7 linked regions of the Homo sapiens genome follow. The protein of the gene in region 4 purifies or fractionates together with the protein of the main gene of each other region. This does not show direct contact. Each region holds a gene or a part of one and is shown on either strand. Other genes may lie near its edges.

Evidence for each region.
Region 1: the proteins of MSMB (region 4) and KLK3 purify together in Homo sapiens (affinity purification with mass spectrometry, with the first as the bait; one large-scale study listed by BioGRID). This does not show direct contact.
Region 2: the proteins of MSMB (region 4) and PLXNA1 purify together in Homo sapiens (affinity purification with mass spectrometry; one large-scale study listed by BioGRID and IntAct). This does not show direct contact.
Region 3: the proteins of MSMB (region 4) and BMP1 purify together in Homo sapiens (affinity purification with mass spectrometry; one large-scale study listed by BioGRID and IntAct). This does not show direct contact.
Region 5: the proteins of MSMB (region 4) and LRP11 purify together in Homo sapiens (affinity purification with mass spectrometry; one large-scale study listed by BioGRID and IntAct). This does not show direct contact.
Region 6: the proteins of MSMB (region 4) and PEX6 purify together in Homo sapiens (affinity purification with mass spectrometry; one large-scale study listed by BioGRID and IntAct). This does not show direct contact.
Region 7: the proteins of MSMB (region 4) and SLIT2 purify together in Homo sapiens (affinity purification with mass spectrometry; one large-scale study listed by BioGRID and IntAct). This does not show direct contact.

Annotation. Positions count from the first base shown.
Region 1 is NC_000019.10:50,853,701-50,857,714, forward strand, and holds the start of KLK3 (prostate-specific antigen isoform 1 preproprotein), read left to right. Parts: upstream 1-1,214; 5' UTR 1,215-1,255; coding exon 1,256-1,301; intron 1,302-2,539; coding exon 2,540-2,699; intron 2,700-4,014. UniProt on the Homo sapiens protein: Hydrolyzes semenogelin-1 thus leading to the liquefaction of the seminal coagulum.
Region 2 is NC_000003.12:127,028,115-127,031,614, reverse strand, and holds part of PLXNA1 (plexin-A1 precursor), read right to left. Parts: intron 3,435-3,500; coding exon 3,275-3,434; intron 2,623-3,274; coding exon 2,519-2,622; intron 2,176-2,518; coding exon 2,079-2,175; intron 1,742-2,078; coding exon 1,551-1,741; intron 1,373-1,550; coding exon 1,203-1,372; intron 1-1,202. UniProt on the Homo sapiens protein: Coreceptor for SEMA3A, SEMA3C, SEMA3F and SEMA6D. Necessary for signaling by class 3 semaphorins and subsequent remodeling of the cytoskeleton. Plays a role in axon guidance, invasive growth and cell migration.
Region 3 is NC_000008.11:22,175,372-22,178,871, reverse strand, and holds part of BMP1 (bone morphogenetic protein 1 isoform 3 precursor), read right to left. Parts: intron 2,730-3,500; coding exon 2,559-2,729; intron 2,340-2,558; coding exon 2,222-2,339; intron 1,949-2,221; exon of another isoform or gene 1,912-1,948; coding exon 1,733-1,911; intron 1,021-1,732; coding exon 915-1,020; intron 1-914. UniProt on the Homo sapiens protein: Metalloprotease that plays key roles in regulating the formation of the extracellular matrix (ECM) via processing of various precursor proteins into mature functional enzymes or structural proteins.
Region 4 is NC_000010.11:46,043,470-46,047,465, forward strand, and holds the start of MSMB (beta-microseminoprotein isoform a precursor), read right to left. Parts: upstream 2,801-3,996; 5' UTR 2,769-2,800; coding exon 2,766-2,768; intron 1-2,765.
Region 5 is NC_000006.12:149,854,360-149,857,859, reverse strand, and holds part of LRP11 (low-density lipoprotein receptor-related protein 11 isoform 1 precursor), read left to right. Parts: intron 1-3,500.
Region 6 is NC_000006.12:42,969,182-42,972,681, forward strand, and holds part of PEX6 (peroxisome biogenesis factor 6), read right to left. Parts: intron 807-3,500; coding exon 704-806; intron 621-703; coding exon 487-620; intron 1-486. UniProt on the Homo sapiens protein: Component of the PEX1-PEX6 AAA ATPase complex, a protein dislocase complex that mediates the ATP-dependent extraction of the PEX5 receptor from peroxisomal membranes, an essential step for PEX5 recycling.
Region 7 is NC_000004.12:20,258,405-20,261,904, reverse strand, and holds part of SLIT2 (slit homolog 2 protein isoform 1 precursor), read right to left. Parts: intron 1-3,500. UniProt on the Homo sapiens protein: Thought to act as molecular guidance cue in cellular migration, and function appears to be mediated by interaction with roundabout homolog receptors.

The sequences.
Region 1 (4,014 bases), on a different chromosome or scaffold from region 4:
CAACACCATGGGAGGCTGAGATGGGTGGATCACGAGGTCAGGAGTTTGAGACCAGCCTGACCAACATGGTGAAACTCTGTCTCTACTAAAAAAAAAAAAAATAGAAAAATTAGCCGGGCGTGGTGGCACACGGCACCTGTAATCCCAGCTACTGAGGAGGCTGAGGCAGGAGAATCACTTGAACCCAGAAGGCAGAGGTTGCAATGAGCCGAGATTGCGCCACTGCACTCCAGCCTGGGTGACAGAGTGAGACTCTGTCTCAAAAAAAAAAAATTTTTTTTTTTTTTTTGTAGAGATGGATCTTGCTTTGTTTCTCTGGTTGGCCTTGAACTCCTGGCTTCAAGTGATCCTCCTACCTTGGCCTCGGAAAGTGTTGGGATTACAGGCGTGAGCCACCATGACTGACCTGTCGTTTAATCTTGAGGTACATAAACCTGGCTCCTAAAGGCTAAATATTTTGTTGGAGAAGGGGCATTGGATTTTGCATGAGGATGATTCTGACCTGGGAGGGCAGGTCAGCAGGCATCTCTGTTGCACAGATAGAGTGCACAGGTCTGGAGAACAAGGAGTGGGGGGTTATTGGAATTCCACATTGTTTGCTGCACGTTGGATTTTGAAATGCTAGGGAACTTTGGGAGACTCATATTTCTGGGCTAGAGGATCTGTGGACCACAAGATCTTTTTATGATGACAGTAGCAATGTATCTGTGGAGCTGGATTCTGGGTTGGGAGTGCAAGGAAAAGAATGTACTAAATGCCAAGACATCTATTTCAGGAGCATGAGGAATAAAAGTTCTAGTTTCTGGTCTCAGAGTGGTGCAGGGATCAGGGAGTCTCACAATCTCCTGAGTGCTGGTGTCTTAGGGCACACTGGGTCTTGGAGTGCAAAGGATCTAGGCACGTGAGGCTTTGTATGAAGAATCGGGGATCGTACCCACCCCCTGTTTCTGTTTCATCCTGGGCGTGTCTCCTCTGCCTTTGTCCCCTAGATGAAGTCTCCATGAGCTACAGGGCCTGGTGCATCCAGGGTGATCTAGTAATTGCAGAACAGCAAGTGCTAGCTCTCCCTCCCCTTCCACAGCTCTGGGTGTGGGAGGGGGTTGTCCAGCCTCCAGCAGCATGGGGAGGGCCTTGGTCAGCCTCTGGGTGCCAGCAGGGCAGGGGCGGAGTCCTGGGGAATGAAGGTTTTATAGGGCTCCTGGGGGAGGCTCCCCAGCCCCAAGCTTACCACCTGCACCCGGAGAGCTGTGTCACCATGTGGGTCCCGGTTGTCTTCCTCACCCTGTCCGTGACGTGGATTGGTGAGAGGGGCCATGGTTGGGGGGATGCAGGAGAGGGAGCCAGCCCTGACTGTCAAGCTGAGGCTCTTTCCCCCCCAACCCAGCACCCCAGCCCAGACAGGGAGCTGGGCTCTTTTCTGTCTCTCCCAGCCCCACTCCAAGCCCATACCCCCAGCCCCTCCATATTGCAACAGTCCTCACTCCCACACCAGGTCCCCGCTCCCTCCCACTTACCCCAGAACTTTCTCCCCATTGCCCAGCCAGCTCCCTGCTCCCAGCTGCTTTACTAAAGGGGAAGTTCCTGGGCATCTCCGTGTTTCTCTTTGTGGGGCTCAAAACCTCCAAGGACCTCTCTCAATGCCATTGGTTCCTTGGACCGTATCACTGGTCCACCTCCTGAGCCCCTCAATCCTATCACAGTCTACTGACTTTTCCCATTCAGCTGTGAGTGCCCAACCCTATCCCAGAGACCTTGATGCTTGGCCTCCCAATCTTGCCCTAGGATACCCAGATGCCAACCAGACACCTCCTTCTTCCTAGCCAGGCTATCTGGCCTGAGACAACAAATGGGTCCCTCAGTCTGGCAATGGGACTCTGAGAACTCCTCATTCCCTGACTCTTAGCCCCAGACTCTTCATTCAGTGGCCCACATTTTCCTTAGGAAAAACATGAGCATCCCCAGCCACAACTGCCAGCTCTCTGATTCCCCAAATCTGCATCCTTTTCAAAACCTAAAAACAAAAAGAAAAACAAATAAAACAAAACCAACTCAGACCAGAACTGTTTTCTCAACCTGGGACTTCCTAAACTTTCCAAAACCTTCCTCTTCCAGCAACTGAACCTCGCCATAAGGCACTTATCCCTGGTTCCTAGCACCGCTTATCCCCTCAGAATCCACAACTTGTACCAAGTTTCCCTTCTCCCAGTCCAAGACCCCAAATCACCACAAAGGACCCAATCCCCAGACTCAAGATATGGTCTGGGCGCTGTCTTGTGTCTCCTACCCTGATCCCTGGGTTCAACTCTGCTCCCAGAGCATGAAGCCTCTCCACCAGCACCAGCCACCAACCTGCAAACCTAGGGAAGATTGACAGAATTCCCAGCCTTTCCCAGCTCCCCCTGCCCATGTCCCAGGACTCCCAGCCTTGGTTCTCTGCCCCCGTGTCTTTTCAAACCCACATCCTAAATCCATCTCCTATCCGAGTCCCCCAGTTCCTCCTGTCAACCCTGATTCCCCTGATCTAGCACCCCCTCTGCAGGTGCTGCACCCCTCATCCTGTCTCGGATTGTGGGAGGCTGGGAGTGCGAGAAGCATTCCCAACCCTGGCAGGTGCTTGTGGCCTCTCGTGGCAGGGCAGTCTGCGGCGGTGTTCTGGTGCACCCCCAGTGGGTCCTCACAGCTGCCCACTGCATCAGGAAGTGAGTAGGGGCCTGGGGTCTGGGGAGCAGGTGTCTGTGTCCCAGAGGAATAACAGCTGGGCATTTTCCCCAGGATAACCTCTAAGGCCAGCCTTGGGACTGGGGGAGAGAGGGAAAGTTCTGGTTCAGGTCACATGGGGAGGCAGGGTTGGGGCTGGACCACCCTCCCCATGGCTGCCTGGGTCTCCATCTGTGTTCCTCTATGTCTCTTTGTGTCGCTTTCATTATGTCTCTTGGTAACTGGCTTCGGTTGTGTCTCTCCGTGTGACTATTTTGTTCTCTCTCTCCCTCTCTTCTCTGTCTTCAGTCTCCATATCTCCCCCTCTCTCTGTCCTTCTCTGGTCCCTCTCTAGCCAGTGTGTCTCACCCTGTATCTCTCTGCCAGGCTCTGTCTCTCGGTCTCTGTCTCACCTGTGCCTTCTCCCTACTGAGCACACGCATGGGATGGGCCTGGGGGGACCCTGAGAAAAGGAAGGGCTTTGGCTGGGCGCGGTGGCTCACACCTGTAATCCCAGCACTTTGGGAGGCCAAGGCAGGTAGATCACCTGAGGTCAGGAGTTCGAGACCAGCCTGGCCAACTGGTGAAACCCCATCTCTACTAAAAATACAAAAAATTAGCCAGGCGTGGTGGCGCATGCCTGTAGTCCCAGCTACTCAGGAGGCTGAGGGAGGAGAATTGCTTGAACCTGGGAGGTGGAGGTTGCAGTGAGCCGAGACCGTGCCACTGCACTCCAGCCTGGGTGACAGAGTGAGACTCCGCCTCAAAAAAAAAAAAAAAAAAAAAGAAAAGAAAAGAAAAGAAAAGGAAGTGTTTTATCCCTGATGTGTGTGGGTATGAGGGTATGAGAGGGCCCCTCTCACTCCATTCCTTCTCCAGGACATCCCTCCACTCTTGGGAGACACAGAGAAGGGCTGGTTCCAGCTGGAGCTGGGAGGGGCAATTGAGGGAGGAGGAAGGAGAAGGGGGAAGGAAAACAGGGTATGGGGGAAAGGACCCTGGGGAGCGAAGTGGAGGATACAACCTTGGGCCTGCAGGCCAGGCTACCTACCCACTTGGAAACCCACGCCAAAGCCGCATCTACAGCTGAGCCACTCTGAGGCCTCCCCTCCCCAGCGGTCCCCACTCAGCTCCAAAGTCTCTCTCCCTTTTCTCTCCCACACTCTATCATCCCCCGGATTCCTCTCTACTTGGTTCTCATTCTTCCTTTGACTTCCTGCTTCCCTTTCTCATTCATCTGTTTCTCACTTTCTGCCTGGTTTTGTTCTTCTCTCTCTCTTTCTCTGGCCCATGTCTGTTTCTCTATGTTTCTGTCTT
Region 2 (3,500 bases), on a different chromosome or scaffold from region 4:
AACACATGGGATGGACAAGACCAAGTCGGGGGTGGCTGCTGGCCCGGGAGCCAGCAGAAGTGGCAGGGACAGTCCAGGAGAGAGGGGAGCTAAGACAGTGGAGAGTGTGCACAGAACTGGGGGGAGACCCCAGCAGGATGCACGGTGAGGAGGGGCACTTCCTGGTGAAGCAGGGTCCAGCCATACAGGCAAGGGCATCCACCTGACCCCAGGTGTGGGGGAGCAGTCCTACCCCAGAAGCCCTCGGCCATGCAGGTAGAGGGGCCTGGTGCACAGAGAGGGGCTCCCCTGTAGCAGGCAATGGTGGGGTTGTCTGCTGGGGTGGGGGCCACACACACAGCAGGGACCCGCTCCAGGGGCTAGGGTGTGGCTACAGTGTGCCAACCGGAGCAGGGGGCCACAGACCAGAGCTTGGGGGTCCTGAGTAAGGAGTGAGGCCAAGGGCTGGCCTGCCTGTGTGGCAGAGAGGAAGCCAACATTGCTGAGTTGGGCAGTCCATGACCAGGGAAGAAGCAGGTCACTGTCCCAGGGGTGGGCCAGGCCGGAGGAAAGCAAGGGACTGGCTGGCCAGGGAGGCAGATACTCTGGAGGGAGGCCACTCAGAGGCTGGGTGCCTCTTCATAACAAAACCCAGCCTCATAGAGCCCCAGCTCACATTGGTGTAGCTGTGCACGGTGCAGGCTGGGCAGGCCCTGCTCCGTACTCCAGCTGCTCCGTGAGACCGTGGCAAGTGGCTCGGCCTCTGCGCCTCAGTAAGCAGGCTCTGGCCTGGCCCCACACTGCAATGGGGAGGCTGTAAATTCCTCGCACTAAAGACTACCAGGAGTACCTGCAGTCCCTGTTGCCCTCATCACTGCAACCAGCCGGCTTGGGGCTGGTCCACTGTGCCCTGTTTCTCACGCTGCAGCCCACACTCATGTCCGCACAGCTGTGCACACCCAGAGCCACTCACACCTGCACACAGTTCCTGCAGCAGTGGGAGGGGCTCAGCGGCTGGAGCAGAGGGCGAGCCGTGGGTCAAGGGGCACAGGCAGATAGGGAAGGCCAGTTAGCACAGGACTGGCCCGCCATGCCCCTGCTGGGTTGTGTCCCCACGCCAGGGAGCCCCAAGTGGGGGCTCCGGATCAGAACAGGGCGAGGGCCCTGGGAACACATCTGGCCTGGCCCTGGGGGATGCCCCTCCTCCCCCTGCCCTGCATTACCAGTTGCTCTTCCAGGTGTGGCGCACGTCAGCATCGTGGATCTGGTGCTTGTCGGCCTGCTCATCCAGGAAGTCGAACATGTACTTGATGGCCAGCGGCAGGGCTGAGCCCCGGTGTGCCGTGCTGAAGATGGTCTCAAACAGGTCGTCCACAAACTTCTGCAGTGTGCCCTGCGGGGGGCAGGCAGGGACACTGAGCCCCAGGGCGCTGCCTGGCTGCCTACACCTCCTGGGTGACTAGGCAAGTGGCCATGGGAGCATGGGGGTGAGGCCCTTGCTCTGGGCTTGGCACTTTCTCTGAGCTCAGTTGGCCCAGCGTCCCCTGCCCCCATCTGCCAGCCAGGCCCACCTTGGTGGCCAGTAGCCGTGTCAAGTAGATCTCCGAGACCATCTTGCTGCCGCGGTCACCCTCACGCTGGTCCAGGTGGTCGTGGTTCTTCACCAGGTGCCACAGCTTGGTGCCGCTCTCCAGGTCGGGCGTGATCATGGGCGTGCGCGAGCGCAGGCTGTCGGGGCTGCTGGCCGTGCGCAGCATGCTCTCTGCAGCACCAGGCTGTCAGCGCCCGCGTTGGCTGGCACCCCGCACCCCCCGCCCGAGCCTGTTTCCCCATCTGAAAGCTGGGGATGGCACCCCCACCCATGTGGGATTTTGGGGCAGCCGATGACACCACAGAGGTGGCATAATTGTGTACGGACACACAGTCGCGAGGAGGCGCAGCCTCCAGAGCTGGAGGGTAAGGCCAAGAGTGCGAGTGACAGGCTTGACACCTGCCCCTGGGTCCTCCCGTCCGGCTGCTGCAGCGTGGGAGCCCGGGGGACGTCCTGCCCAGGCCAGGGACCCATGCGCTGCCCTCTCGCCCGCTGCCTGGCCCCTCACCGTATCTGCTGAGGGACTTGGTGAAGGTGGAGGAGTTGGAGATGTTGTAGGCGGACGTCTGCTTGGGCACCAGTGCCACCGAGGACCCGTCTGTCACCTGTGGGCAGAGGGCCAGGGACCCTGTGACCCACCAGGGTGCCCCTGCACCACCAGGCTCCCACTCCCCGGCTGGGGACCCCGGTGACACCCTAGTGCTGTGCCTGGAGGCAGCCACCTCACTCAGTCTGGAACTCTATATCAGGACAGCCCAGGGATGCTAGGCAATCCCACAAGCCCAGCTCGAGTCCTGGGACGGTCCACACACATAAGTGACCACCTCCCCTCCTCTCCCTGACAGATCCAGCTGCTGTCCAGCCCACATGCTGCAAACATTGGTGGCTGCGCTGTGGAAGCCCCAAGGGGAGGGAGGCCTGTGCTAGGGTCGGAGGGCCGGGAGCCACCTGGTAGTGAGCCAGTGTGTTCAGCCTCTTCCAATCGTTGTCAATCTTGGTGGTGACGTCCTCGTCCTGCAGGATGATGCGCGCCATGCGGCCCTGGCGCCACTCTGGGGGAGGAGGGAGCTGGAGGGTGGGGCCGCTGGGGCCCTCTTTCCCTCCTCCATCACAGCAGTGTAGTGGGACGGGGCCTGCCTGCAGCTCTCAGCACCAGCACAGGGCAGGGACATACCTCCGCCCCTGCTGCAGCACACTTAACCTGCCATAGTCCCCTGCAATGTGCCACAGCCCTCCCAATCTGCCACAGCAGCCCCAGCCTAAGGGGGTCTGCCCTGCCTTCCGCAAGCCTTAGGGCCCCAACTCCTCAGCCTGGCACCGAGGCTTCTGTGGGGACCCAGCCTCTCCAGTCACATCTGCAGCAGGACTCCGGGCCCCACCCCAAACCCGTCCCATCCCCTCTGGCCCTCAATGGCTCCACCTGCCCCTCTCATGAGCCTGAGTATCCCCCTCAGGGCTCCAAGAGCCCACTGCCTCCCAGAGTGCACTGGAACCCACCACCTCCCAGAGTCTCTGCCCAGAGCAGGGCAGCCACCCTCTATACCCAACCTGGGACTGGACAGCCCACTCGCCATTCCACTGCCCTCCAGACCAGCCTGGTGTGGAGGACTGGCCTGGCCTTCCCCGCCAAGCTCAGTACTAGGCCATGGCCCTGCCCCTCTGCTCCAGCACACACCCCGGGCAGCCGTGGCCCCGCCCGCTCACCCAGGTCCATGTCCGCGGCCTTGGGCCGCTGGGAGTAGGGCACGCCCTTGTAGGCAGCGTCCAGCAGCTTCTCCTTGGCCTGGGTGACCGTGTCACAGTCCAGCCCCTTCACCGGCACCTCAGGTGCATTCTCATTCTCAGGGTTCACACAGTTCAGGGTCTGCGGGCGGGGTGGAGCAAGGGGGCAGCGTCAGCCCCACAACTGGGGGGTGGGGGGCACCAGGGC
Region 3 (3,500 bases), on a different chromosome or scaffold from region 4:
GGCCACTGTCTGGGACACAGACAGAGGATGAGCAAAGCACCAGGCCTGGGAATGGCCAGGCCAGGAAGGAGTTTGAGGAGGAGGGAGGTGCCATTTCCCACACTGCTAAGGAGAATCTTGGGGGAGGGGAGGCTGGGCCACCACCTTTGAGGGCTCTGGTTGTGGCTTCTGGGGACCTGGGCCTCAGATAAGGAGGATGTGCTTCGGAGCTGGGCATGGGGGCTAGTCCAGGGCAGGGGTCAGGCTTCGTGCAAACTGGCCAATTACAAAAAAAGCAGACTAATTAAAAAGGAATGGCTGGGCATTGGTGGCTCGCGCCTGTAATCTCAGCGTTTTGGGAGGCCGAGGTGGGAGGATCCCTTCAGCCCAGGAGTTCGAGACCAGCCTGGGCAATATAGTGAGACCCCATCTCTAAAAAAAAAGGCACGGTGGCGTGTGCCTGTCATCCTAGCTACTCAGTAGGCTGAGACGGGACGATTCCTTGAGCCTAGGAGTTTGAGGCTGCAGTGAGCCATGACTGTGCCACTGCACTCCAGCCTAGGTGACAGAGCAAGATCCTGTCTCAAACAAAAACAAAAACAAACAAATGGCCCACAAATAAAAGCTCAGCACCCTTTGGGCTGATAGTTTGGGGCTACCCCACACTGCTGGGCTTGCAGAGTGGCTGGGTTCAGCCTCCTCCGCCAGGTGCCCTGGGTGCACACGGTGGTAAGGCCCTGCCACAGACCCACCCGTGGAAGAGGACAGGAGGGCAGGCAACATCCACGGACCCTCTGCTTGGAGGCCACAGCCCCCCAGAGGGCCACTCTTTTCCTGGGTCACTGCCCCAGAAGTGGGAGGCAGGAGGAGAATAGCCTACAGAGGGCAGGGTGGGGCTGCCCGAGCAGAGGCCCAGCCCCAATCCCGTCTCCCACCTGGAGAATGTGTTCCGAGCGTAATGCATGATGCTGTCGAAGTCATAGGTCTCCCCCAGGGACTCCACCTCCTGAGGCTCCATCTTCAGGAAGTTATACTCCTGCCCTGCCAAGATCAGGAAAAGGGTGTGGGGGGAGAGGAGGGGGTGGGTCTGCCTGGGATGCAACGCTCACTTTCCAGGGCAGGGAATGGAGTCCTTCCTGTATCTGAGAGAGTCCCCCTACCTGAGGGTCCGGGGAGCAGCCAAGGGGAGCCTGGGGAATGGGGAGGGTCTCAGGAAGAGTCCTGTCCAGCAGAGGGCCTGGTGAATGGAGGACTCAAGGGAACATGGGAAGGAAGCACCATTTCTAGAGCCACAGCTGAGAAGGAGCAGTGAAGAGTGGAGAACGCCTGGGAGAGAGGGAGGAGGCGGGAAGGGAGGGACAGAGACATCGAGAAAATGAGAGAAAAGCCCTCGGAGGGCAGACCAGGCAGAGGGCAGATAGTGGGCAAAGGTGGGGAGAAAGGCCTGAGCAGTCCCCAGGACGGCCCACTATGCCCATGCCCCACCCTAGAGGCTGCCCGGGCTACCGCTGTCCAGGACCAGGACCTGGCCCAGCCTCCCAGAGGAGCTCCACAATGGATGCGGGTCCTTGATCTGACACGGAGGAGGAAATGCCTCAAGGGCAGGGGCTGGCTCAACCCAGGCTGTGGGCAGCGCTGCGGGCCCAGGCGATGACGGCTGGCTGGAGCGGCTGCCACTGCCCCCAGGGGTCCTGGAGGTGGGGGCTGGGGCGGGAGCCGCCCACCAAGGCCGCACCGAGGGGCAGGTACCTACCTGGCTGGATGTTCTCACGAACGATGGAAACGTGGCGGTCCCGGTCTGGCCGAGTGTGTTCGTGCCAGAAGCCGACGACGTGGCCCAGCTCGTGGACCACAATGCCGAACTTGTCACAGTTCTTGCCGATGGAGATGGCCTGGGGGCCCCCGCCGCGGCGACCCACGTAGGAGCAGCACCTGGAGGGCGGGGCCAGCTCAGGGGGGCGGTCCCGAGCTGGGGGAGTGCATCCACTCAGGGGCGGGGCCAGGCTGCCGGGGGCGGGGCGGCAGGGGAGCGAAGGGGAGGGGTGGGCCCTGAGCACCGAGTGCCCAGGCTGTGTGCTGGAGGTCACAGCCGCACAGGGGGCAGTTCCTGGGTAGATGCCCCATAGCAGGAGGGGATAAAGGGACCCAAGGCTGTGCCCAGCTGGGGGCAGTGGCAGGGCCCAGGGCAGAACCTGGGTTGGGGCAATGGCGGAAGGTACAGCGCCTAGGGCTTCCTGCTCACCCGCAAGGTCGATAGGTGAACACAATATAGCTGTCCTCGTCAGTGCGCTCCAGGAAGGTGACACAGGTGTGCTTCTCCCAGTGCCTCATGGCCTGCCGGAAGACTGCCCTCTGGCTACCTGCCAGGAGGAAGGAAGCCAGGTTGCCACGGTGTCCAGGCAGTCCCACCCCCTACCCACCACTGAAGAGTCACAGCCATTCTGAGGGCAGACTGCCTGGAAAGGAATGTGTGGGCACTCGGGCTGCAGGTGGCACCCACGCCTCCGTGCCTGGCAGGGCTGCCACAAGGCCAGGCCCGGAAGCTGGTTACACTCTGGGACCCACAATAGCACGCTCACCAGTGAAGTTTCCCCCAATGACAAAGGGGATGACCCCATCGGGCCACACACGCTCTGGTCGGGACGTCGCCGCCCGCCGGCTACGGGATCTACCTCTCCATCTCCCACAGGCTCCCCTCTGAGGCTGCCCGTTGGTGCTCTGGCAGCTGGGGGTAGAAGTGTTTCCTGGAACTGAGAGAGGAAGTCATGGTGACTAGTGAGTGGAGAGAAAGAGGAGGAAAGCAAAAGCATAGTCAAACCTCATTTTTCATGGATTCTGTGCTTGCAAATTTGTCTACTGGCTAAAATTTATTCGTAGTCCCCAAAATCAATACTCTCAGGGCTTTCACGGTCATTTGTGGACATTTGCAGAGCAGTGAAAAATTTCAGTCACCCAACATGCATGTTCCCAGCTGAGGTGGAATAAGGCAACGCTCCGCTTTCTGCTTTCGGCTCTCATTGTGTAACCAAGTGTCCTTTTTGAGGTCTAGTTAAAGTGCCCTGTTTTTTGTGTTTTTGTGCGCTTTGTTGAGGGTTTCGCTGTTTAAAACAGCCCCTGAGCATAATGCTGAAGTGCTCTCTGGTGTTCCCAAGGGCAAGAAGGCTGTGATATGCCTCACAGAGAACATACGTGTGCTAGGTAAGCTTCTTCGAGGCATGAGTTAGAGTGCTGTTGGTCATGAGTTCAATGTTAATGAATCAGCTCCATATTAAGTAAGGTGTCTTTAAAAAGAAACACTCATAAAACAAGGTGATGCACTGATCAGTTGACAAAAATGTTGTGACCAGAGGCTTGAAGGAACCTGACCCTGTATTTTCCCTAGGAGCAATGGGTCAGTATTTGCTAATGTTTTCAGTGACTGTACAGAGTAACTATAAAGTTATTCTATAACTTCCATAAATAGCAAGAATTGACAATAATCGTAAAAGAGAACAAAGGTGTACTCATTTTCTAGGAATTGT
Region 4 (3,996 bases):
CCTTCCCTGTAAAAAGAGGGGTTCTCCCATTTGGGTGACCATTAGAGTTATCCAGGGAGCTCATAGGAAACACAATCTAGGAGCCAGTGCCTCAGTGTCTTTACCTAGTCTCCCAGGTGAGAACCCAGGAACAATGACCAACCCAGTGCTGCTTTAATGTGCATATAAATTCCTGGGAGTTTTTTTTGTTTTGTTTTGTTTGTCTGTTTGTTTGTTTCTTTTTGGGACGGAATCTCGTTCTATCGCCTAGAGTAGAGTTCAGTGATGCAATCTTGGCTCACTGCAACCTCCGCCTCCCGGGTTCAAGTGATTCTCCTGCCTCAGCCTCCTGAGTAGCTGGGATTACAGGAGTGCACCACCACACCTGGCTAATTTTTGTATTTGTAGTAGAGACGTAGTTTCATCATGTTGGCCAGGCTGGTCTCAAATACCTGACCTCAAATGATCCGCCCGCCTCGGCCTCCCAAAGTGCTGGGATTATGGGCGTGAGCCACCGCGCCCAACCAGACAGCCTGTTAATTAACCTGCAGATTCTGCTTCAGTAGGTCTTTAGACTTACACGGAAGCTCCCAGGTGATGCCCACGCTGCTGGTCTGAGGTCCACCCCTGAGTAGAGAGGCTCTAAAGCTTTTTTCATTCCTGTCTTCTATTCTGCCACCAGCCTTCCTTCCCTTTGTGTCTTCCTTTCCTGCATTTAGTAACCCTGAGCTCCTGATGTGTGCAGGAGATTACACCACGACGCCAGAATGGGCTAGGATTTTCTAGATGGTACAGCGAGCCTTGAGGTGAAGCAGGCTGGCAGTATCCTTAGAAGTTGTGTCTCTTGGCTGGGCGCGGTGGCTCACGCCTGTAATCCCAGCACTTTGGGAGGCCGAGGCGGGTGGATCATGAGGTCAGGAGATCGAGACCATCCTGGCTAACATGGTGAAACCCCGTCTCTACTAAAAATACAAAAAATTAGCTGGGCGTGGTGGCGGGCGCCTGTAGTCCCAGCTACTCAGGAGGCTGAGGCAGGAGAATGGCGTGAACCCGGGAGGTGGAGCTTGCAGTGAGCCGAGATTGCGCCACTGCACTCCAGCCTGGGCGACAGAGAGACTCCGTCTCAGAAAAAAAAAAAAAAAAAAAAAAAAAAAAGTTGTATCTCTTTAGGTAAATTACTGCTCCTGGAAGGGTTATCCCATGATCAAGAGTTGGGGGTCTGGCCAGGCATAATTTCTCACACCTGTAATCCCAGCACTTTGGGAAGCCAAGGTGGGAGGATCACTTGGGCCCAAGAGTTAGAGACCAGCCTGGGCAACATAGTAAAAACTCATCTCTACTACAAATAACAATAATAAAATAAATAAATAAATAAATAAAGAGTTGGGGGTCCTCAGGATCTTAGGCAGGCAGAGGTATTGCCAGCTCTGCAGCTTGCTAAGTTCACTGTGAGGCTGCATAGAGTATAGGCTGGAGGAGCCTGTCTAGTGGAGATGGGGAGGACCTCCCACCCCACTGTTGTTTTACCATCCCCAGTTCTGCCTCCGGACAGTTTCTGAGAGCAAGTTTGTCTTGCCGAGTGGCCCAGAGGAGGCCCGGGGTCCCCTCCTGAGGACCCTCTCCCACCTCCCTTGGCTCCTCCCACTTGGCTGGCTGTTTCTTGCCTCATCTCCCTTGCAGCCCCCAGAGCAGCCCAGTTCAGTCCCCAGCGTTAGTAAAGAATGTTTTAAGAAAGATCAAGTTTAAGACACAAGAAAAGCCTGCATGGGTTTTTATAAATTTTGAAGCAAAATTCTTTCTTGGCCAGGCACAGTGGTTCACACCAGTAATCCCACCACTTTGGGAGGCTGAGGTGGGCAGATTGCATGAGCCCAGGAGTTCAAGACCAGCCTGGGCAGCATAGCAAAATCCTATCTCTAAAACAAATACAAAAATTAGTCGGGCATGGTGGCACTCGCCTGTGGTCCCAGCTACTTGGGAAGCTGAGATGGGAGGATCACCTGAGCCCAGGAAGGTCCAGGCTGCAGTGAATCATGACTGCACCACTGCACTCCAGCCTGGGCAACAGAGTGAGATCCTGTCTCAAAAACAAACAAATAAACCAACAAACACAGCCCCAAACCCAAGATTTTTCCTTAACACATGATACAGTGAAAAGGGCCTAGGGAAATGGTTCCCAAACTTGAGTATTAAAATGACCTGGGCAGCTTTTTAAATTGATGCTCTGTTCTCACTGCAGCCCAATTAAATCAGAGTGTCGGGGTGGAAGATGGGTGTCAGTGTTCTTCAAAATTCCCCCGGAGTTTCCACTGCACAGCCAAGTTTGGGAGCCCCTGGCAGGGAGAGAGGAATGCCTGGGTTCCTATCTCAGCTCATTCACAGGCTTGCGGTGAGACCCCAGTGGCAGCTTCTTCCCCTCCCCAGGCTCAGTTCCCTCATCTCAAAAACGATGCAGTCATGTAGCTCTGAAATTATTTTTAATTTCAAATTACTCACATAGGACCCAAGAATTAGAGACACTTATGAAATCTAATTGAACCCCAGAATTACTGGAAGGAAAAACAACTTAGATCTTAGAGAACAGAACTAGTGCTAAACTCATTACAATTTTCGCAAGCTCTCAGACTCTCATACTCTGCACATTGAATTGCAGGTAATAACATAAGGTTCCTAACTAGGTCACATTTACCATTCAATGCTATGTGGTAGAAGCACACGCATATTAAAATAGGAATACATATTCTCTTTTGCTTTTCTAGCCTTTATATATAAAACCAGTTACCTACCATTGTGATAAGCAGGACTCCTTATAGACAGGTACATCCAGGCAAAGCTGCATCAAACTTTTATACTGGAGAGGGCAACCACGCATTCGACATCATTGGGAATGATAACAAGGTGAGAACACATTGAGTGTTTACAGAGGGTTGACTATCAAAAGGAAAGTATGGTTTCAGATGATTTATGAGTTATTAATCAATCACATCTCCACCCAAGTTATGTGTTTACCTTGTCCCCACCCCGATCTGCATTTGCTGCTGACCTAAAAGAGCAGAGGAGGAGAGAACTTCTCTTTGCTGAGCCTTCGCCCTATGCTGGTGGATTGCTAGCACGTGATGTGTCCTTATTCGATTTTATACACAAAGAAACAGCCTCAGCGATGCCAGTCACAACAGCCAGGTGGTAAAGGTGGGTTTCCTGAAGGCATAAGAATAGCCCACAGGTCAGCCCACCAGGCCCACCGGGCCTGGGTCTGTGGCCCAGATGACCCTGCCCTTAGGGTCTGACATGAGAACAGAAATGGGTCAAGCCATCCTGCAGGGCACAGGAGAGCAAGAACTACATACAGCTCGGGGTTCCCTGACAAGCTGAATTGCTGGACCTTTCTAGAGCCCTTCTTGAATCTGTAGTCTACTCCCTGCTGCATCAAGCAAGCCTTGTTTCTCTTTGTTCCACAGTGGTCTCCTCCCAAACAACCGCACCTGCCCTCATCATGGCTAGGATGGCCTTTGGGGAATGGCAACAAGCAGAACCTCCTAGGGTGCTGGAGGGACTTACTACTTTATCTGTTTGCTCTGCCACCACAACAAAACACTGCAACTGGGTGGCTTTGACTAAAGAAATTTATTTGCTCACAGTTCTGGAGACTAGAAATGTGAGGTCAAGCCATTGGGGAAGGCTTGTTTTCCTCTGAGCCCTCTCTCTTTGGTTTGCAGATGGCCATGCTCTTGCTGCCTCTTACATGGCATGCATCCCTGGCATCTCTCTCTGTGTCCAAATTTCCTCTTCTGATAAGGACACTAGCTGTATTGGATTAGGGTCCACTCTAACTATCTCATTTTACCTAAGCCACCTCTTTAAAGGCCGTGTCTCCATTACAGTCACATTCTGGGATATTGGGGGTTAGGGCTTAAACCAATGAATTTTTAGGGGATGCAATTGAGCTCATAAGACAATTTTATCCCAAAAAGTCCCCTCACTCCTCGCCACAGCTTGCTACAGTTCCTAAAATTTAAC
Region 5 (3,500 bases), on a different chromosome or scaffold from region 4:
TTCTCCTTGCCCACTGCCTACACAGAGCTGATTTATCAAGACAGGGGAATTGCAATAGAGAAAGAGTTTAATTCACAAGGAACTGGTTGTGCGGATAAAACACAAGACCAGATGAGCCAGTTTATCAACCTAGGTACTGCCAACGGGGTGCTGCCAACCATCGAGGACAGGGTCTATAAAATATCTCAAGCACTGAACTTAGGTTTTATAATAGTGATGCCTAAGCCATAATTTCTAATCTTGTGGCTTATTTGTTAGTTTTGCAAAGGCAGTCCAGTCCTCAGGCAAGAAAGGGGCTTATTTGGGGAAAGGGCTGTTACCATCTTTGTTTCTTTTTACTTTTTTTTTTTTTTTTGACACAGGGACTCACTTTGTTATGCAGGCAGGAGTGAAGTGGCACAGTCTTGGCTCACCGTAGCTTTGAATTCCTCAGCCCCCCAAGTAACTGGGACTATAGGCATGTGCCACACATCAGGCTACTTTCTGTATTTTTAGTAGAGATGGGGTTTCACCAGTTCCAGGCTGGTCTGGAACTCCTGGGCTCAAGCAGTCTGCCCACCTCAGCCTCCCAAAGTGCTGGGATTACAAGCATGAATCACCACACCCGGCCGCGTCTGTTTCAAAGTCAGACTGTAAACCAAGTTCCTCCCAAAATTAGTTCGGCCTATGCCCAGGAATGGACAAGGACAGCTTGGAGATTAGAAGCCACATGGAGTCAGGTCAGATCTATTTCACTGTTATAATTTTCTCAGCTATAATTTTTGCAAAGTCAGCTTCAAAATCCCTCAGTAAATGGCAACTATTATAATTATTATCAGCAGCACCATAGGGAGAAGGACTGGATCAGTACATACCAAAAATCACAATAATCATATTGGGGTTGCGGATAATTTTTTTTCCGAAGTGTTGCAGTTGGAAATCCATGATGGATTTTGACCGCATGTATCTGAGCCTCTTCCCCTAGTCTCGCCCCGCTTCCGTACCCTGACTTCAGGGTTCTTTCCAGTTGCTCTGCCTGAGCTATACCATTCGTTCCCACACAGCACAGAATGTCTTCCTTGTCATGGAGGCTCTGTGCACAGTAGCGTGTTGTGAATGAGGCTGGTTGATATTATATTACACTTCTCTGAATAAAATGCCACCTTGATTTGCTCATTCTCAATCGGCAGGAGTCTTATTTCACCTCTGTAGGTCTTACTAAGTGTGTTTAGTTTTCAAAAGAAACCAGTGTTTCCCTAGTACTTAACATGGGTTTATTACATTTTTTTGACAAAAATTCAAAATTACATATATTTTGTTCTTCATTAGCAAGTCACACATTTTAAAATGGCACACTCCCTTCCTCTTCGTGTTGTTATTTGTTTATTTTAAGGACTGTTTCTGGGTAGATAAGCTCTGGGTTATTTTAAAATACATTTTACAATGGAAATGGCCTGGACTTGAACTGAAAAGGAAACATTATCTGTGTTATTTCAGACACATCAGTGATCAGTTTAGAAGATAGGATGATTTCACTAAGCTTATAATTCATCTTAAAGCTCACCTAAATAAAAGTAAGTGACTAAAATGATCTTTTTCTTCCAGGAGAGGTAGGATTAATTAATTGTATAATGTGTGGAATATTTCAGCGCTTATCTGATTCTTCCATCTTAAATCTTTGAGAGTTTTTAAAAAATTATGTGTCCATTACTGTTTATATCACATAGACATATTTTCATTTGTCTACTTAAAAATGTATTTTTAACAAAGTTTAAATAGCTGCTAGCTGTAATGTATAACTGCTGAGTTATAAGATGCTTTCCAGAATTATAAAGTCATAAACCATTGTGTGGAAACAATGAACCTTTCAGAACCAAAGAAAAGGTCAACACTATGAAAGGACTATCAAAATAATGCAAGTGTCCTATCTCTCCTTACCTGGCAGAAGCAGCATAAAGACATCAGACACTCCGTGTTTGTTCAGAGGTGGAAAAAGGCAGAAGAACAAGTTTCTTCCTAGGCAGGGGATTGTTTACTTGGCTTATTTAAATCACAGTTACTAGTCCTCACTCTTAAGTGACTGGAAAAATGGGACACGTCTTCTCCATAGTTAGCAATAGCATGTAAAAAGCAATTGTGCTTAATTCCTCATAATGTGTTTTTTTTTTAAAAAAAAAAAAAAAGGCATCTTCCCTTTGTGGCTGGCAGCAGCATTCTCATTCAGAAAAGCCGCATCTCTAAGAGCCCCAGACCCCTCACATAAATCCCCTTGTTCCTGGATGATCAAGGTCCGGCTGCTTTTTCTCGCTTTCCAATGAGATGCAGACAGACTGGGAAAGAAGGGAGTTTATTTCTGCAACTGGTGACAGGAAGATGGTGGGAGTGACTCACCAGACCAACTCAAAGTTACAAGTTTTTCTTCAGTGTTTATTTACATTCAATTCAACCTCTATGCCTGTGTGAGAGTGTGCACCTACAAGCAGGAGTGTTTCATTCAGTCTAATCTTTAGGGTCTGGGGTCTGGAAAGTCTCTAGAGCCTTGGAAAATTTTCTTTAATCTTAAGTGGCCTTGATACAAGGTATATGTGTAAGAATGCCTTCGATCAGATGTTAGGGTCTGAGAAAGTCCAGGCGAGGTCTTAATGTATTTGTTTTCACATTCCAGGCCTTGTACTCAGGCACCAGTTTCTCCAGCTTGAATGTTTAACTTATGCATTCATCAGAATTACAGGAAAGGGTTAGTGGAAACTGGCTGCTCTGGTTGCTGATGACAACCTGTTGCCACACCCTGGTGCTGGGCATTGAGGGAACCACTAGAAGAGAAGAGAATCCTGGAGGGTTAGGTCCTAAACATCTGAAAGGCAATGGTAACTTGCTGAAGGGTTTTTCCTACTCGCAGAATGACCCCGTCAGATTAGCTTTCCAGAAGAGTCATTTCAGCTGCAATGTATCAAGAGTGGTCACCTTTTGTTCCGTAATGAGACACTGAGGTGGGATTGCAGTAAGCCCCGAAACTCAAGCACTGGGATGTGTGGCTTGGCCCTTTAGAAGTTTGTGTAGGTAGCAACATTGGCCCCTGTGGAGGAAAGTGATGGGCTCGAAAGCAGGAGGAGAGGCGGTGCCTTGCAGCACTGTGCAGGGTGAGCCAAAGAGGGGCAAGCCCAGCCAGCACTCGAACCAGAGCTTTGGCACTGAAGGAATGGGGAAGTGGATGCCAAAGAGGGCGTGGTACACAAACCTGTAGAGTTTTTCCAGTTCTGTTGCTGTTTCTTTAAAATATGTGTGCATTTGGGTGAATTTACTAAGAAGCTTACATCAATTAAAATTTTGGTAACTATGCTCTTAGAAATGTTTTCTTTGTACAGCTTATCCTTTCGGTCATCCCTGTAGCAGCTGTCAGTAAAGTATTAATATTGAAATAAACATAATTAACCTTATATTATTTAGTACCATTCTAGGTTAAAGGTAAATATAGGCTGGGTGCAGTGGCTCACACTTGTAATTCCAGCACTTTGGGAGGC
Region 6 (3,500 bases), on a different chromosome or scaffold from region 4:
CCAGCATATCCAACAGCCAAAGACTAATTAATTCCCTTTGGCATTGCTGTGCTGCCAATAAAACCTCAACGTTATGACTGGTCTGAATGGTATTGAGAGACATTGTGGTGGCACTGAGGTGGGGATCTGCGTCCACACCTGGGCCACTGGTATGAGGAGTTGTGTCCTTCAGGGCCAGGGCAGTAAAGTGCAGGATGGCCAGTGAGCTCCCCAAGGGGAAGGGCAGTCTCAGAAACAGATGCCCCTGCTGGAGATTCTTCCTCCAGAGCCAGCCCTGGAGGACAGAGGTTATCCCAGGAAAGGAGCCTGGGAATTGGCTTACAGAAAGGAGTGGCCTGGTGGCCTTGTGTAGGACATACTGGTTTGAGGAAGGTCCTCCCAATCCCACTCTGGCCAGTTCATTAGGAACTACCCATCTGGCTGCTGCTCCTCCAGGGATGTTCTAAGCAGGCTTTTCTCACACCCTGGGGTGATGACCTCACTCACCCTGGCTGGAGGCGAGGCTTCAGGACAGCACAGAGTTCAGACACCAAGGCCTCCAGGCCTGGAGGAGACAAACTGCTCCAGAGAGTGGATTCCTCTGAAGGGAGCCATGGAACAGGGCTCAGGGTAGAACCCACCTGTGAAAGGTAATAAAAAGCTTTCGTTTCTAAAAATCGTTTCTACCCCCTGCGCTGGTCTACACCCATCCTTGGGGCCTCACCATGTACAAGGAGGTATGGGTGGTGTCGGCCAAGTAGGCACTGGCTGGTCCATCTGGAGCTTCCCCAACTGTTTTCTTCACTTTAAAAAACATTTCCCGCCACCTGCAGGAAAAAGGCCCAATGAACCCCAGATCCAGAGTCCAAAAACCCCCCTCCTCAAGGACAAGGTTTCTCAATCACAGAGGACAAACAAAAGCACCACAAGAGCGTGTCCCGAGTCATGGTGGGGAAAAGGAATGCAGATGGACTTTCTCATCTTCCTGACAGACCATACACACCTTGAGGGCAAGAGCTATGCCTGTCCCTCTGCATCCCCCATGACAGCCATGAGAGCTCTGAGGGGGTGTGTTTCTCCAGGCATGTGGCCTACCCACCCACACCAATGGGAGAAGCTGCTGCTGCACTAAGCAGTGGATCATCTGATTACTTCTACTGGCTTCGGTCTCCCCCTCAAATACACAGCCATCCAGGCCCCAAAAACCCTAGGGGGAAGGGTCCCTTGGCTCTTACTCAATAATCCACAAAATCTCATTGCAGGCGGAGTCCTTAATAATGCCATCTGATGAATAATGGTTCTGTATTCTGGCTGCACATTGGAATTATCTGTGTAACTTTAAAAACTAAACATTTCTCACATATTATATGATTCTATTCAGCAGATCAGCAGTTGCCATTGCCTATGAGGGAAGCTACAGGGAATGACTGCTAATGGGTGCAGAGTTTCTTTTTGAGATGTTGAAAATGTTCTGGAATGAAACAGTGATGTTGGCTGTACAACCTTATGAATAAAAAAATTGAATTGTATACTTTAAAAGTATGGTTTTATGGTGTGTGAATTTTATGTTTTTAAAATTAACCTTTCTCCTTCCTTTGTGAAGGAAAAAAAGCACAGGCTCCAGTCTCACCCTGATTCTGCCCCAATAGATCTGGGGTGGGGCTTAGGCACCTGTATTTTTTGAAAGCTTCCCCAGCAATTCTGATGCATAACCAGGGCTGCGCAGTAGTTGGCGAGTGTCATAGTGAGTTAGGGTTATTCAACCTACTAACGGGGAATAGGATGGGTAGCAGGAACAGCTACTAACCCAATTTTCCAGATAAAGAAATCATGAACTACTTCCCTCTTTAATCCTCAGGCAGCAAGGCAATGACAGAGTCAGGCTATAACCTAGTCCTCTTTAAGGTCCAATCAGGCTGCAAATTCCTCTGCTCACACTGCCCCACAGTCTCAAAGCTGCTCTCTCTAGCAGCAAAGGGGTGTGAGAGTGCAGCAAGGTGGAGGGGAAGCATACCAGGTTAGTATTATGAAACTCTTCTAAGTACTACAGTAAACCTGGAACATCAGGAAGCCTGAATCTGCCTATAATTAATTATAAATAGGTGACAGTGGGCCTCTAACCTAGGATCTCGATCAAGCTCAACAGCTGAGTCATGGTGTGTATGACTCACCATGGAAGCCCTGCATAGGAATGAGATGGGGGACAGCACTGTGGCATAGGGAGAGACCACCTTCTTCAGTGGAGGGTGGTTGGACCACCTCAGTGAATAGAAAGGCCAGAGCTCTGGAACCTATGTGGACACTGCTAAGGAACACTGAGCTGTGCTCCAGCCAGCCAGATAGGTGATAGTGGAGCTGGCTCCCATGCAGCCTGGTTTGGGGAAGTGGAGCACCAGGGACAGGATGAAGAGGCTACACCAACAGTGGAATTCCTTTCCAGGGCTCACAGGAACTTCTGCAGGGCTTCCCTTCTCAAGCCCAGTGCAGCTTAAAACGCTCATCTGTATCTGTCCTTGGACCCATTGGGCCACTTACTCCAACCCTGCTTTCCTTGCGGGGAAAAGAACTATGTGCTCGGCACTCAGGAGGAAAGCAGGGTTCTACAGAGTTGAGACAATAGAAGTTCAGGAACAGAACTGGCTTGCCAGCCTGTCTCATGAGGTTCTAGTGCCTATTTTCCTTTGAAAGTACAAAGAGTGGGCATTCTGTAGTTTTCCTACTGAAAGCTAGCTCAAAGACGTTTGCTAAATTTATGATAGGAGAGAGAGGTGGGAAGTGACTGCTAAGTGCCAGCCTGGCATTTTCCACCAGACTCGTGGACTTAATCTGGAAAACCTCGAAGAGGTGACATGGAGCCTAAATGGGGTTCCACAGAGCACCACCACCCTGAGACTGGGGGTACTGAGCACTGGCCAGAACCAAGCACTGGATATTGACCAGGGATGAACATCAGGCACTCCAAACAAGGACTGTCTCTCCTGGCAGAGGACCCAGGCTGGCTATGCCACAGACCTTGGACATGAAGGCTCTTATGTATGAGTTAGTGCATCTATCAGCTGTGCTCTCCTTCTAGTAAACTGCTGCAGGAAATGAGTCCAGAATACAGGGAATGCTGGGATACAGAGCTATACATTTTCCTCCCTACACATAAGGCTAAAGCAGTGTCTCAATTCTTTGCCTCACCATTTTACATGGAACCTCTGTGGTCAGAGTCAACAAGAGGAGAAAAGCTGGATTCCTTATTTTGGGTTCTTGGCTCGGTTATGCTCTATTTCTCATTCTCTGTTGATAGGACAGGGTAGCCCTCTCAAAAACAATAGAAATCCCTGGCTGGGTGCGGTGGCTCACGCCTGTAATCCCAGCACTTTGGGAGGCCGAGGCGGGCGGATCACAAGGTCAGGAGATCGAGACCATCCTGGTTAACACGGTGAAACCCAATCTCTACTAAAAATACAAAAAATTAGCCGGGCGTGGTGGTGGGCACCTGTAGTCCCAGCTACTTGGGAGGCTGAGGCAGGAGA
Region 7 (3,500 bases), on a different chromosome or scaffold from region 4:
ACATTTACCAAGTATTGGTGGGAAAAGATGAACACTCCACATGCCTGCCTTTGTTATTTCCACAATTTTCTTATTTTAAGGTTACAAGATGGTTGCGGTGTTCACACAAAGCCTAATATCCAAGACTTTTCACAGTATGCTACTGATTCTTACCAACATAACCTAGGCATATATGCATTTCACTTTTCAGTCTTGGAGTAAATAATAAAACATCCTATAACAACCCTAAAAAATTTCAAAAACTTTCTCATACTTTTGCATTTGTATTATCAAGGAAATTTCAAAAGAAGATTGTTTTCACTAGTGGAACCCTGACATGATCTGGGTCCCCCTAAAAGACCATAAAATAGAAGTGAATGACTGTAGTATCTAATCCCATAAACAGTGTGTGAACAAGAGAATTTTACACAAGCCCACAGCATTGCTGGGTCCCAGTGTTATTTTTTTAACCCTCTAGGACATTATGCAGCATCCAAAAAAAACTCAAATTAATAATTTTGCATGGAGAATTTATTGCAGATATACACAGGTATCTTCCTTGAGGTATATAAAAGAAATATACTTCCTAAGTGTCCTGATTCTTACTGCAGCTTATTTGTGACTTTTTTATCCGAATTTCCATTGAATTAACTGGTCATCTAGGTAGAGTACATTTCATTTGAAAATTTTTTTGATTAAACAACAGGAGACCTGCTAATACAGTCTATATAAGGCACATACTGAAGGCTTCATTTTCATCCCAGATAAACAGGTACCACTAGCAATACAGAGCATCCTAGGAAATGTGACTCTGCACATGTTAGGTCTGAGAGTGCAGAAACAAACTGTCAAAACAGAAAATAATGTGTGCTCGTGGTATGCAGACGTGATTACAACTTCCTCCTTTTACAGTGATGCACAACCACATTCTGACAATGATGTGTTATCTCATGTTGTAAGAGAATGGAGGAGAGGGGAGGGAAGGAGCTAGTTAGAGAGGTAAGGAAGAAAGAAAAGAAAATGGAAGAAAAAAAGAAGGAGGTGAGGGAGAGGAGGAGGAAAGAAAGGAGGAGGTATTTTACTATTAACTCCTTGACAGTTTATCTGAAAATGTTGTATTTCATCCACTCTTTGAAAGGGAAAACTATCTTTTATAGCTATAATGTTTTGATTTGCAAATAATGACTTTGCCATTCCATGCTACAATTAAATTCAAATCAACAACATGACTGTTTCTTGCAGATTAAAAAGCTGAATTTTTAAAAGGTACAGATCTTTATCTTCTGTTTTCAGATTTTTCTATAGATCAAGTTAAAAGTCCATCAACATAAAATAAAAGAAAAAGAAAAATGTATAACTATGAAATATTCACAAAATGTAATTTAGAATTATTTTATCATTTTAAAATGAAAATAACTTAAAACCATAAATTACACAAGAATAAAATTAATGTTTTTATTTTATTTTGTTCTTCATACAAGGAATAAAAATTAAATCACTATTCAGTATATAAATGGGATTTACAACATAAACCTAATTTTATACTTTTTTCATAATTGAGTTCCAATTTTAAATTTCACAACTAAATTCTTAAAAACCATATAAATTTACACAATACATAATAAAAAGCTAATTTATTGATTTCTTCTTGTCTCTCACATTGTCTCTTGCAGCTTTTGAAAAAGCAAGCAATTTTTTGGTGTTAATGACACTGACTAAAATAAAGATATATACCACAGGCCATAGCAGTTTGATTATGGAACTCTCTGGGTAGTTTTGGGGTTTTTGTAGTTTTTATTTTTTAAATCAATACAATGAACAAAATTTAAAATAGTTTGTTTCACAATAACTTGAATGCATTCCTTAGCAAACCTGCCTTGCCATTTAATGTATTTTTAAAAAATAAATATTTGAAAAGTGTATCCACAATGTTCCTAAGAAATGGTTTTGAATTCCAGAGTCCAAGGAAATGAATTGGCTGTCAGATAACAATGTGCTTCCATCAGATGGATTTGGCAGTTGTAAACAAAAGGAATTTTCTCAGCTTTTCCTCACAAATATGAAATATTTGCTCTTGGCCAACAGCTGGGGTGATTTAAAGAAGTCCTGCATATATATTAGTTTTCATTCAGAATTACAAATCCTCCTCCCACTCTGAAACATCTGACTTAGTCTTAGTAGAATAGAAAATTGTTCTGAGATGAAGTGACATTCCCAGAGGAAGTAAAAGTCAAAAAATAGTACCTACTTACAACTCTAATCAAATTTCAGAGCATATAGCATCTGGTTAATAAGTTTTAGGAAAAGTTAATTTATTCAAGATGAAAGTTCAGACAACACTCTGAAGTGACTTGAAAAAGAATGAGAAAGTTTGTTTAGTTCTAGTGTCCCTGAAAATATTTAAAACAACAATATAACCAAAATAGAGACTGCATAAAAAGCCATCAAAACTCCTTCAATGGTTTGGAAGTTAACAACTAAACTCAAGATACTTTCCTGTGGTGACTAAAAGTTATTCTTGAAAACATAAAGTTTAAATGATAATTTAAATTATCTATTCATTTTACCAAACATTTGAATTATATTGATGCTTTCTTAAAGATTAAAATATCTTTGCAAGTTACTTACTAGGAATTAGCTAATCACATAGTCTATCAAGGAGATCAAAGAATAAATACTTTCAGAGTATTTTTTATATATTTAGAGATAGGCTATGAACTTATAAGCTTTGTTATGAATGCAACCAAATGTTTACCAATTTTAATTTCCCTCTAAAATTAGTTGAAAGTAGTGATTTTAAATTTATTTTGAATTCCACAATTATAGTCCTTGTATTGTAATATTTAACATAGAGAAAGACCAATAGTAAAATAAAGTAGACATTTCTGTGTTTTACTTGAGGTGATAAAAATATAGTCTATATATTTATAAATATCTTGGAAGGGGACAAACCATTTTTCTACTTATGGACAATTACAGGGAATTAACTTCTGCCCTTTTGCCCAGTGAACCTGAATATGTGTTAAGCTTAAAATGAACATTAGATTTTATTATTTTTTGAAAAAAATTATTTTTACTTAAAGTGACTATTAAGGCAGGCATGAAAACTTATTAAAATAATTGTTGTTTCTTTTACTAGAGCTTTTCTTTGCCTTCAAAATGCAAACATATCAAACCTGAATAATCAAGGCATGTAAGACATACAATTCGTACTTCAATTACAAGGTCTGTAATTTATCTTAATTATTTCAGACAGAGGTTTTGTCTTTTGCAGATATATACTGTAAACATTTTTAAAGTCCTCAAGTAATATGTAAAAAACGTATCTTAAAATCTGAAGTCTACATTTAATCTTCTTGGGAAGAAAACCAACTTTGAATGACCACAATTTGATAACACAGTTCTTACTTTCATAATGTTTAGATTATTTTTCCAGAATAAATATTTTTAAAGCTAGGGCCAAATAAAATAAAACTGAAAAGTAATTATTAACAATAACAATGTTCACCACGCTAAATATA